3 linked regions of the Homo sapiens genome follow. The protein of the gene in region 3 purifies or fractionates together with the protein of the main gene of each other region. This does not show direct contact. Each region holds a gene or a part of one and is shown on either strand. Other genes may lie near its edges.

What was found. Proteins that work in one complex are often made in the same cells at the same time.
Region 1: the proteins of CPNE9 (region 3) and RIC8B purify together in Homo sapiens (affinity purification with mass spectrometry; one large-scale study listed by BioGRID and IntAct). This does not show direct contact.
Region 2: the proteins of CPNE9 (region 3) and GTPBP1 purify together in Homo sapiens (affinity purification with mass spectrometry; one large-scale study listed by BioGRID and IntAct). This does not show direct contact.

What each region holds. Positions count from the first base shown.
Region 1 is NC_000012.12:106,840,682-106,844,181, forward strand, and holds part of RIC8B (chaperone Ric-8B), read left to right. Parts: intron 1-1,907; coding exon 1,908-2,136; intron 2,137-3,170; coding exon 3,171-3,266; intron 3,267-3,500.
Region 2 is NC_000022.11:38,708,944-38,712,443, reverse strand, and holds part of GTPBP1 (GTP-binding protein 1), read right to left. Parts: coding exon 3,488-3,500; intron 2,345-3,487; coding exon of another isoform or gene 2,272-2,344; intron 1-2,271. UniProt on the Homo sapiens protein: Promotes degradation of target mRNA species. Plays a role in the regulation of circadian mRNA stability. Binds GTP and has GTPase activity.
Region 3 is NC_000003.12:9,702,582-9,706,632, forward strand, and holds the start of CPNE9 (copine-9), read left to right. Parts: upstream 1-1,251; 5' UTR 1,252-1,415; coding exon 1,416-1,483; intron 1,484-1,591; exon of another isoform or gene 1,592-1,610; coding exon of another isoform or gene 1,611-2,005; coding exon 2,006-2,046; intron 2,047-2,167; coding exon 2,168-2,214; intron 2,215-2,309; coding exon 2,310-2,413; intron 2,414-2,882; coding exon 2,883-2,919; intron 2,920-3,136; coding exon 3,137-3,139; intron 3,140-3,405; coding exon 3,406-3,482; intron 3,483-4,051. UniProt on the Homo sapiens protein: Probable calcium-dependent phospholipid-binding protein that may play a role in calcium-mediated intracellular processes. Plays a role in dendrite formation by melanocytes.

The DNA of each region.
Region 1 (3,500 bases), on a different chromosome or scaffold from region 3:
AGCCTAAAACCTCCAAATATTTGTTGAATCAAACTCTACATTTGGTTTCTTAAATTTACTGAATTCCTGGAAACTGCTTACTTTAAACGAATTTAAAGGGGAAACATTCCTTTGTAATGAAATGACCCATCTGAAACTTTTCAATCTGGTCTCTGGTAGGTTCAGAGCATCATACGGTCAGTGTATTTAAGAGCCTATTGCCTGATGTTTAGGGAAAAAATCATAACATTTCAGAATGGCTTGTATACAGTTTTTGAAAATAATTCTAAGGTAGAGTTATTTCCCCCCTTTTATTCTCAATGAATCTATGGTATTATTTAGTAACAATTTCTAAGTGCTTAAGATAGAAGCAAAACGTTCTGAACTATAGATAAGATAAACTACAGATATTTGCAAAAAAAAGTTTTAAGAGAAAGTTTTGGGGAAAGCTTATATTTCAGCCACCTTTGATTATTTACCAATAACCAAATATAGAGATTTTGTGCATAACACCAGTAGCAGCAGCAGTATTTGGTTTTAGTGAGGGCAATCAAATAACTTGTATTTTACTAGGAACCATTTATTCATATGACTTGTTAAATTATTTTTTGCTCTTGATTCATTTTTTTGATGCCCTATACATTACCACTTTCTGTTCTGCATTGTCTAACTTTTCAACTGACTTGTTACTGGTTTTTATTTTTCCATAATATAAAAAGAAAGGAAATATTCATTCTTGGGGAAGTGGAGCACAATTCAGGGTAGAGGAAAGAAAAATTTTTGTATTTCTATTTCTTTGTTTTTCTGTTTGTTTTGCTTTATTTTTTAGGGTGTCACTATAATCTAAAGTAGAAGGAGCTACTGGTCTAAATTAAGATAGTATCAGATAGATTAAGCTCTAAATTTGGTTTCCAAGTGGTTGGACTTTTAAATTGCATTTGCAGGAGTTTATTTTTAGTCAGGATGTGGTTATTTTTAGATCTGCTTCTCTGTCACTAGGAAATAAAATGCCTGTCTTTCCATTGTTGATCAGGAAGTTCTAAGGCACAGGCATATAAGAGCCAGTTAGCCCAGAACACCACCACTCCTTTTAGATGAAAGAATATGAAATAACTCATGGAAGAAAATATGTTTGTTGAGAACATATCTAATTTTGAAATTGTTAGTGTCATTTTAATCTTTTGTACACTGAACAACAGAACAAGGTTTTTAGGGAATGCCAAAAATATAAGGTTTGGGTTCCCCCTACTGGTGTGCATCCCAGTCTCGTGTATTCATTAATACACAGCTGAAAGGCCTAGGGGCTAGAGATTAGAAATAGCTATATTAACTTCATTTAGAGACCTGATGATAAGAAAGAGAGAAAAAACTCCATTTCCCTTTTTCTGCATATGTCTTACAAAAATTGGGATGATTTTTAAATTGTATTTTCTACATTTAGAAAGAATAAAACTTAATTCTACCATATTTGGTTTATTGTTGTTGCTACTGATAAGCTGCTTATTTTCAGTGTTTCTCAAATGCTTTATGTTGTAATCTAAGGAATAATAAAACACCAGTGGATCCACAAAAGGATTTAAAATCCCAGGGAAGAAATGCAAAGCTAGCATTGTTGCCATAATAAAATTAAGGAGCTGGCATTAAAGCTCACTAATTCCTATTTTAGCATTTCAGAAAGTGACATGACATCATGTGATTGTGTCTGTCTATTCAACATTTGTTTTTTTTCTAATTTGTACAACATATATTTGAAACAGTTTTTTATTTCCTATCTCATAGTAAGTGTCAAGTGTCCATAATGGCTCATTTTTGGAAAAGAAATATTTTAATTGACTCTTAAAAGTCACTTTTGAACTTCTTATTATGTTTGCATTTTAAAGGACTATTCAATCAAGTTAAAATATTGTATTTTTTTAATTGCTTTTCAGCAATGCAGTCAACCTTTTAAGCAATGTTCCAGTCTCTTGTTTGGATGTTCTCATTTGTCCGTTAACCCATGAAGAAACAGCCCAAGAGGCAACGACTCTAGATGAACTGCCCAGTAATAAAACAGCTGAGAAAGAAACAGTTTTGAAAAACAATACCATGGTATACAATGGTATGAATATGGAGGCCATTCATGTTTTACTGAATTTTATGGAGAAGAGAATAGACAAGGTAAGGCTGATAAAATGGAAGCCCTGGGAAGATGCTTCCAAAGAATGTAAATGTGCCATACATACAGACACACATCACAGAGCATGATTTTTAAATCTAAGCTTTTTTTCTGACTGATGTGCTGCATAATTGTTTTTACTTTGGAAAGCAGTTTATTACAATATATGATAAATTGCTGAAGCCATGTTAATTTATTTGTTTAATGCTGAAAATTATGTTCATGCAACACCAAAATTATGACTAGTGCTTGAAAACAAAGGAAAAAGTAATTACTGTTCCATTTTGTTACTTTGTGAGTCCTAGAAATAAAAAATATCCCCCCAAAAACTTGCTAAATACTCTTCATAATACCTAAAAGACATCTTCCCAAAAAAAAGAAAAAAGAAGACCTTGTCAATTTCCCATTTGTTGTGAGCTGTTTATACATTCTCTGGTCTATCACTCACTTTGTCAGGTATCTGTATTAAAAGGCAGCAAGGTAGCATAGTCCAGTCACCAAAATTTTGCTTCATTCAAGCCCTTTGGCTAAGCCCATGGGAATCCTAGAAAATGTAGGAACATCCAGGAAGGACCAAAAAAGGCAATAGTAAACATGAAGATGATAAAATGGAAATGTTTTTAGGAAAAGAATTTTTAAAATAGTTTGTAAGCTTAGGTAACATAAGATGTCCCCACCTCGTGGATCACGAGGTCAGGAGATCGAGACCATCCTGGCTAACATGGTGAAACCCCATCTCTACTAAAAGTACAAAAAATTAGCCAGGTGTGGTGGTGGGCACCTGTAGTCCCAGCTACTCAGGAGGCTGAGGCAGGAGAATGGCGTGAACCCGGGAGGTGGAGCTTGCAGTGAGCCGAGATTGCGCCGCTGCACTCCAGCCTGGGCAACAGAGGGAGACTCCCTCTCCCAAAAAAAAAAAAAAAAAAAAAGTCCCCACCTCAAAAACAAATTGATATCCTCAGTTACATGAAGGAAAGTAATACTGTTAGAAACAAAACTAACGTATTTCAAAAACATATGGTTTTTTTTTTTATAGGGAAGCAGCTATAGAGAGGGTCTAACTCCAGTTCTCAGCTTATTAACCGAATGTTCCCGAGCCCATCGAAACATCCGAAAATTTCTCAAAGATCAGGTAACTGCTTAATGCATATTACATTGCAAAGTTAGTCTTTTTATGTGCATTTTAAACATAGAATTAATTGAATTTTCTCACAATGATTTTGTTTCAGATAATCAGAAACTCAGTCTTAATCTTTGAAATCTTCTTAATCAAGAAGTGTGTATTTTTTGAGTCATTCATTCAGCAAATGCTACCGAGATCTGCTGTGTGTGCTGTGTTTTGGGCATTGAACAACAGATGAAGTCT
Region 2 (3,500 bases), on a different chromosome or scaffold from region 3:
CTCAGAATCTGAGCCCTGCCTTCCTCTGCCCAGCCTCTCCTCCTACCACTCAGGACCTCATACTCTCCACTCATCCTACTGGATTACTTTTGGTCCACTATATATTCCTGTCTCCAATGCCTCCATGCCTCTGTGAGAATGGTTTCCTCTGCCCATTCACTATTCCCTCCATTTACCTGGAAAATTCCTACTCATCCTTTAGAATCAATTAAAGGGCAGCTCCTCTTCACAGCCTTTCCTGACTCTTCCACAAAGACTTAGTACTCCTTGGCCGGGCACGGTGGCTCACATCTGTAATCCCAGCACTTTGAGGCTCAGGGGGATCACCTGAGGTCAGGAGTTCAAGACCAGCCTAGACAACATGGTGAAACCCCGTCTCTAATAAAAATACAAAAATTAGCCAGGCGTGGTGGCAGGTACCTGTAGTCCCAGCTACGCGGGAGGCTGAGGCAGAAGAACTGCTTGAACCCAGGAGGCAGAGGTTGCAGTGAGCCGAGATCATACCACTGCACTCCAGCCTGGATGACAGACAGAAACTCTGTCTCAAAAATAATAATAATAATTTTAAAATACTTAATACTCCTCCTATGTCCCCTGAACTTTTTTTTTTAATTGTTTTTCTTTAGAGATAGAGTCTCACTCTCGCCATCTCAGCTCACTGCAACCTCCACCTCCGGGGTTCAGGTGATTCTCATGCCTCAGCCTCCTGAGTAGTTGGGATTACAGCAGTGCACCACCACGCCCAACTAATTTTTTGCATTTTTAGTAGAGATGGGGTTTCACTATGTTAGCCAGGCTGGTCTCGAACTCCTGGCCTCAAGTGATTGGCCCACCTTGGCCTCCCAAAGTGCTGGGATTATAGGCATGAGTCTTCTTTTTCAAAGAAATCTCATGATAAATCAACTACAACCTGGGACCCTTAAAAAAATTATTACTGCAACTACTAATATTAGCTAACATTTATGTAATGCTCACTATTCACGATGATTTCCTTGAATTCTCATTTAATCTTCACTACTACACCATGGGAGAGATTCCATTATTATCCCCATTTTAAGACAAGGAAAAGAGTCAGTAGGCAAATCCAGGCCTGCCAGGTTCCAGATCCTATAGATTAGGCCAGACTGCCCCCTTTTAAAATATCAACATTAAGAATGTATTCTTAAAGAGCACATTCCTCTACATTTGTTACAATTTTAAATGTCTTATTTATCTATACAAAATTTCTCTGAGGTAGGATGAGGAAGGTATCATTATTCCCATTTTACAGAGAAAGGATGTGATAAACAGAGGTGAAGCAGCAAGGAAACCACTGATGAAACTGACTCCTTGGGGCCGTGTATCTGGGTTAGTCTTCTGATTATTGTTCAACTTGTTTAACTAGTTATGATCTCTTTCTATTTGTAAAGAATTCCAGCAGGAGGAGTCACTATGAATCTAATAGCATCCAACTGGTGGATTCGAGGATGATGCTTGGGTGTACAGATGTGTTAATAAATGTCTGACATCTTACGCTTTGCCATGGGTGGGTTTGCCATGGGTGGGTTAATTGCCATGGGTGGGGTGTGAGTTGTCAAGGCATGGTAAAATTCACTGAGTCCACATAAAAGGATGAGGGGAAAGAGGAGTCTTAAGAATCTGGGTCTTCAAAAACAGACTCAACACTTGTCAAAATTGACCTATATGTGGTTCCTGAAATTCTACAATTATTAAGTGATCTTTGAGTGGTTCATCTTATTAGAGCAGGCCAGATGTGTACCTGACATCAAAGCTTCAAAAGGCTACCAATGATCTCCTAGTCAACAAATGGAATGTTTTTTTTTTGAACCTGGCATTCATTGCTGCCTCTGTAGCACTTGATAATGCTAATCAACTCTCTCCCTTTCTTGATACGCAACCTCTTAGTTTGCCTATCTCTCTGACCATGCCTTCCTTTAGGTGGTAAGACCCGCAACTAGAGAGGTAGCAGCAAGGATGGGAAGGAAAGAACAGATACGAAAGATATTTCAAAGGAAGGCACAGCTGCATCTGGAGAGCAAATCCTTCTTCTTTATGTCACTCTTACAACATTTCCAAATACTGTTTCCCATGGAGGTTATTTGTGTATATGCCATCTTTCCTCCTTGGGGCAGGGATCAGATTTTAAGTTTCCAAAAGAGCTTTGCAACAGTGGCAGGCCTTAGAAGATACTTAATAGATATGTATAAAATAGTTTAAGAATGATTTTGAGATTTCTTCAATCTTCAACTCAAACTACAAAAGAATTATTACCTGGCTTTACAAAGCCTACATTCAGCAAAGAAAAGTGTTTCTTTAATGATGCATCCAGGCCCACCTGGGCTTCCTGCAAAGATGACAGAGACAAGTGCTGGTATGGGCTGAATTCATAATCGTTAACAACCCCAGCTGTCATTTCAGCAAAGATAATCCCATAATGAAGATGAAGGTAAGCAGGTCTTGTATTGAAGTTGCTAACTAGGAGTGACCAGGGGAAGAAACCATAATATACTCTGGGATTGTTGTGAGGGCTGCCTTCCTCTAAAATAGTAGGTTCTGTTACAAGGAATAAGCAGCTTGGAGAACAATAACCAGTCCCTTTCAGAATGGTTACAAGCCTATGTGTCTGACAGGATCCAGTGGGGAGAGAGGACGACCTCTGTTATCCCAGCTATCCAGACTAAATAGTCAGTAGGGTCTGGGGCAAGGAGCCTGACAAGAGAGGAATTCTGGGCATCTTTTCTCTGCTGACACCAAGAAGAATCACGGAGGTCCTCTGCTAAGCAGAAAATAAGTCGCAATGGGATCTGTAAACAGGGCCTGGAAGGGAAGACCTCCAGCTGCCCAGGAATAAGCTTAATTCTAGACCTAACTATGGCTTGCCCTATTACCTTAGACAAGAAGTTCCTTTGCTTTGTGCTTCATTTCCTCTTATGCAAATAGAGAGTACTGGAGGTAAAAAGGAAGCATCTGTAAAACTGCTTGGAAAGTCAAGCATATTATGGCCACTAAGGTCAGAATTAACATTCACTTTGTACTTTTATGTACTCCAAACAGTTCTGCAGACACTAAAGAATCACTGTAACTGAGACACATAAGCAGAAAAGTTCAAAAAGCGGGGAAAATGTGCTCTAAATAATTTCTTTTTTTTTTTGAGACAGAGTTTCACTCTTGTCGCCTAGGCTGGAGCACAATGGCACGATCTTGGCTCACTGCAACCTCCGCCTCCCAGGTTCAAGCAATTCTTCTGCCTCAGCCTCCCAAGTAGCTGGGATTACAGGCGCCTGCCACCACTAATTAGCGCCCGGCTAATTTTTTGTATTTTTAGTAGAGATGGGGTTTCACCATGTTGGCCAGGCTGGTCTCGAACTCCTGACCTCAGGTGATCCACCCGTCTTGGCCTCCCAAAGTGCTGGGATTACAGGCGGCAGGGCCACCGCACCCGGCCCAATAATTTTTAAAAATAAAGTGAAAGGAAAACTATGCTCACCTGATCCCTGCCC
Region 3 (4,051 bases):
GAGAGTAGTGGTTCTCGGGCCTAAGCAGGTCCTAGTCACCTAGAGAGCCTGATGAGCTGTGCACATTCCCAGGGCTGCCTGAGCTTTAGCCTTAGGGTTGCTAAGGAAGTTGCCTGGGAATTAGGAGCTGGAGGATCTTCATTTTTTTCAGATTTTTTGAGATGGAGTCTCACTGTTACCCAAGCTGGAGTGCAATGGCACAATCTTGGCTCACTGCAACCCCTGCCTCCTGGGTTCAAGCGATCCTCCTGCCTCAGTCTCCTGAGTAGCTACGTGAACGTGCCACCATCCCCAGCTAATTTTTGTATTTAGTAGAGATGGGGTTTCACCATGTTGGCCAGGCCAGTCTCAAACTCCTGAGCTCAAGTGATCTGCCTGCCTTGGCCTCCTAAAGTGCTGGGATTACAGGCATGAGCCACCGTACCTGACCAGGATCTTCATCTTTAACAAGTTCTGTAGGCAGCAGGGTCCTGGTACGGGTGACCTGCATCCCCTACCTTGAGCCCTGCCTATGGAGGAAGGACTGGCTTCTGAAGCTTTGGAGATAGCAATTGGTGTGCATGTGTGGTGGGTGAGAGCCTGGCTGACCACCACCCTCTTCTACAGTGTAACCTACAGTAGATTGCGTCATGAGAGTGTGTCCGCATCTGTAACGCCATGAAAGTCGTGAGGGTTAAAGGCATGGGCAGACAGCTTTGCACGGTGCTCAACAGCCACCATTTACTGTCATCATTGTGAATACCCAGAGGACAAATCATAAATACCAGTGAATGTTTACTGAGCACTTGCTGTGTGCTAAGTGTTTTCCTTGGGTTATCTCAGTAAAATTTTACAGCACCTAAAGTAGCTGCTGTTAAAGGCCTTTCTGACGGCCTTTCACGGTTGAGCCACAGAGATGTTGAGTAACTTGTCCAAGGTCACACAGCTACTAAGAGATGTACTTTTCCTATTCAGAGACCTAGGCAGGCTGGGAGTGGGAAAAGACAGAAACACTAAGGGAGTGGCTCAGTAAGAGGCAACAATTCCAGTGCCCACCAGGTGCCCCAAATGTTTCAGCATCATGGACAACTCTAGGGGGCTTGGGTTTCCACCCCAGAGACTTGCGCAGGGCAGACTCTACCAAGGTGTGGGTTGGAGTTGGGAGTCGGGGTGAGGTTCCCCGCTGGCTCCAGGCTGCTCCAATGGGGCGGGGGCCGCCCGCAGGGCCGGGCGGGGCTGTGCTGCCATCTGGAGCCGCTGCCGCCGGCGGCCACTGTCAGGGCGCGAGCGGCTGGAGCGCACGCAGGGCTGGAGCGAGTGCAGCCGCCGCCGCCGCCGACACCGCGGCACATGGGCCGGCCCCGCCGCTGCCGTCGCCCCTAGCCCCAGCAGCCCTGGTCTCGCAGCCTCCTGCGGCTCTGGTCGCCCGACCAGCCATGTCTCTCGGCGGAGCCTCCGAGCGCAGCGTCCCGGCCACCAAGATTGAAATTACCGTGTCCTGCCGGTGAGCGGGCCGCGCTGGGGAGGGCTTAGGCACTGGCACTGCCCCAGCCCCAGCCAGCCGCGGGGCTCAGCCTGGGCAGGGGCTAGACCCCCGGGGAGAGGCGAAATTGGCTGGAAAATCACAGCTGATGACAGGGCGAGTAGCTGGTGGGATCGAGAAGCGGGGGGTCTTGGGCAGCCCCACCCCGAAAAAAGGGCTCAGCCTGCGGGTTCAGGGGGTGGGTCGCAGATATCCGGTAGGAGCTCGGCCCCAGGAGGACAAAGTTCTGGGGCGAGCCCTCTTTCCTGGGCCCTTGGAGACAGTGTGGGTGCGTTCGCGTCCAGTCCGCAGAGCCATGGTTCCTGGACAGCGATTTCCGGTGCTGTCCAGAGTGCTGACAGAGCGGACCCCGGCTGGGGGTAGCCATGGGGGACAGAGGTTCGATGCGGGCCCCATGCCTCTCCTCAGTGCCCGGCTCAGAGCCGACTCGAGGCGGGCGGACTCCAGGATGATCCACTCTGTCTGTCTGTTGCTTTTCTCTAGGAACCTGCTAGACCTTGATACCTTCTCCAAGTCCGACCCCAGTAGGCGGCTCCAGGACCGGGAGGGGGAACTTGGGGTCTGGGCGCGACTCAGGGGCGGGTGGAGTCGGGGCCAGGGGTGGGAGCCGACCTGACGTCCTTCCCTCCCCGCCCCCACCTGCAGTGGTGGTGCTTTACACGCAGAGCCGGGCCAGCCAGGAGTGGCGGGAGGTGAGTCCCAGAGCCCCCTCCCGGCCCAGGGCGTCGCCCGGGAATTCCCCTGCCCGTCTGCACGTCCCACGCTGACCCTCCACCCCCCTACCCAGTTCGGACGGACCGAGGTGATTGATAACACGCTGAACCCAGACTTCGTGCGCAAATTCGTCCTCGACTATTTCTTTGAGGAAAAGCAAAATCTGCGCTTCGATGTGTGAGGCCCCGCCTGGAATTCTGGCTTGGCCCGCCCCCGACCTGGATCCGCCCGGAATTCTGGCTGGCCCCACCCCCGCCTCGCCTCCGGCCTGGTTCTTCTCGCAGGCCTCCCTCCCATTCTGAATGGCCCCCTCTAGCCTGAGCCCTGCCCTTTTATGAGATGCGGTCCAGTTCCGTCCCCCGCTCTGGCCCCGCCCACAACTCTGCTCCTATCGCAGCTCCACCTCAGGCCCGACCCCTTCCACACAACCCTGCCCCCAGCAGCCCCTGACTTGGCCTCGGCCCAGGCTTGACCGTCTGACTACTCAGCCCACCCTGACTCCTCCCCAAAAGGAGACCAAAGCTGAATTCGGGTCCACGGCCGCCCATCCCTCCACCCAAAATTTTCACCAAGACTCGGTGCCCGACCCCTTTCCACCCTCTCCCCCACCCAGCCCCACCCCACACCGGTTCCACTCTTTTCCCAGGTACAACGTGGACTCCAAAACCAACATCTCCAAACCGGTGAGCAAACGTTTCCTCGAGGGTTGGCGGAGCGCACAGGAGGCACTTAGATGTGTTCAACGACTCTCAGAACTCCTCCCAACCCTCGACCCAGACCCCATCTTCTTCAGGCCCCCAACCCACCCTCCTGGTCCCTCTCCTCCTGCCTGAGTGTCCTGCCTGTGCCCCCTACTCACTGTTCCTCTTCCTTCTTGGCTGCCACTGCTGGGACCTGCAGAAGGTGAGGCTGAATGGGGCTGGGCAGAGGTTGGGGGTGGGGGTGGTATTGTGGAGAACAGGCTTGGACTGATGACCCACTACAAGGCAGAGATTGCTCGCAGACCCCTTCTTTCACACCCCCTCCATTAAAGCCCATGTAGGGCCGTGGCTCTTGCACCACTCATTCGCCTGGGAACTGCCCTGGTCCTGTGCAGGAGCATCACTGGGGCTAGGCTGGGACTCAGCACTCAAGAGCTTCTGGTCTTGCTGACTCCTTGTCCTGCATAGGATTTCCTGGGACAAGCGTTCCTGGCCCTGGGAGAGGTGATTGGAGGCCAGGGCAGCCGAGTAGAGCGAACCCTCACGTAAGCTGAATAGGAAGGGGTGTGGGAGTGGGGTGGGGGCTTCCAAATTCTCCCTCCCAAGGATGCCGCTGACTGATAGAAGTGGAGGCTGGGGTTGCCCCTGGTCAGGAGCCTGCCCCGGCTCCCATCACCCTCGTAGAAAAGTCCAATTTCCAGTGCTCTGCCCGAGTCAGTATCAGGCCTGATATGTCTTTTCTTTTCTTTTTTTTTTTTCTCTCTCTCTCTCTGTTTCTCTCTCTCTCTCCTCACTCTTTTTCTAAGTCTGATTCAGCCTTTAAGGTCCACTTCCAAGCCCCTCTCCACAGGGAAGCTCCCCCGGACTAAGTCAAATCCTCAGGAATTACCATTACATCCACTCACTAAATATGCATTAGCATGTTTTATATCCCACACCCTGTTCTAGGCACCAGGGCTTCATTCATTCCACAAACACTATGTATACATACCCTATGTCAGCCACTGTTAAAGGGGATTAGCTTGCAATGGTGAACAAAACAAAGGTTCTTGTCCTCAGGGGGCTGATACTCTAGTTGTGTGGGGAGGACAGTACAAAATAGACATAAGTAAAT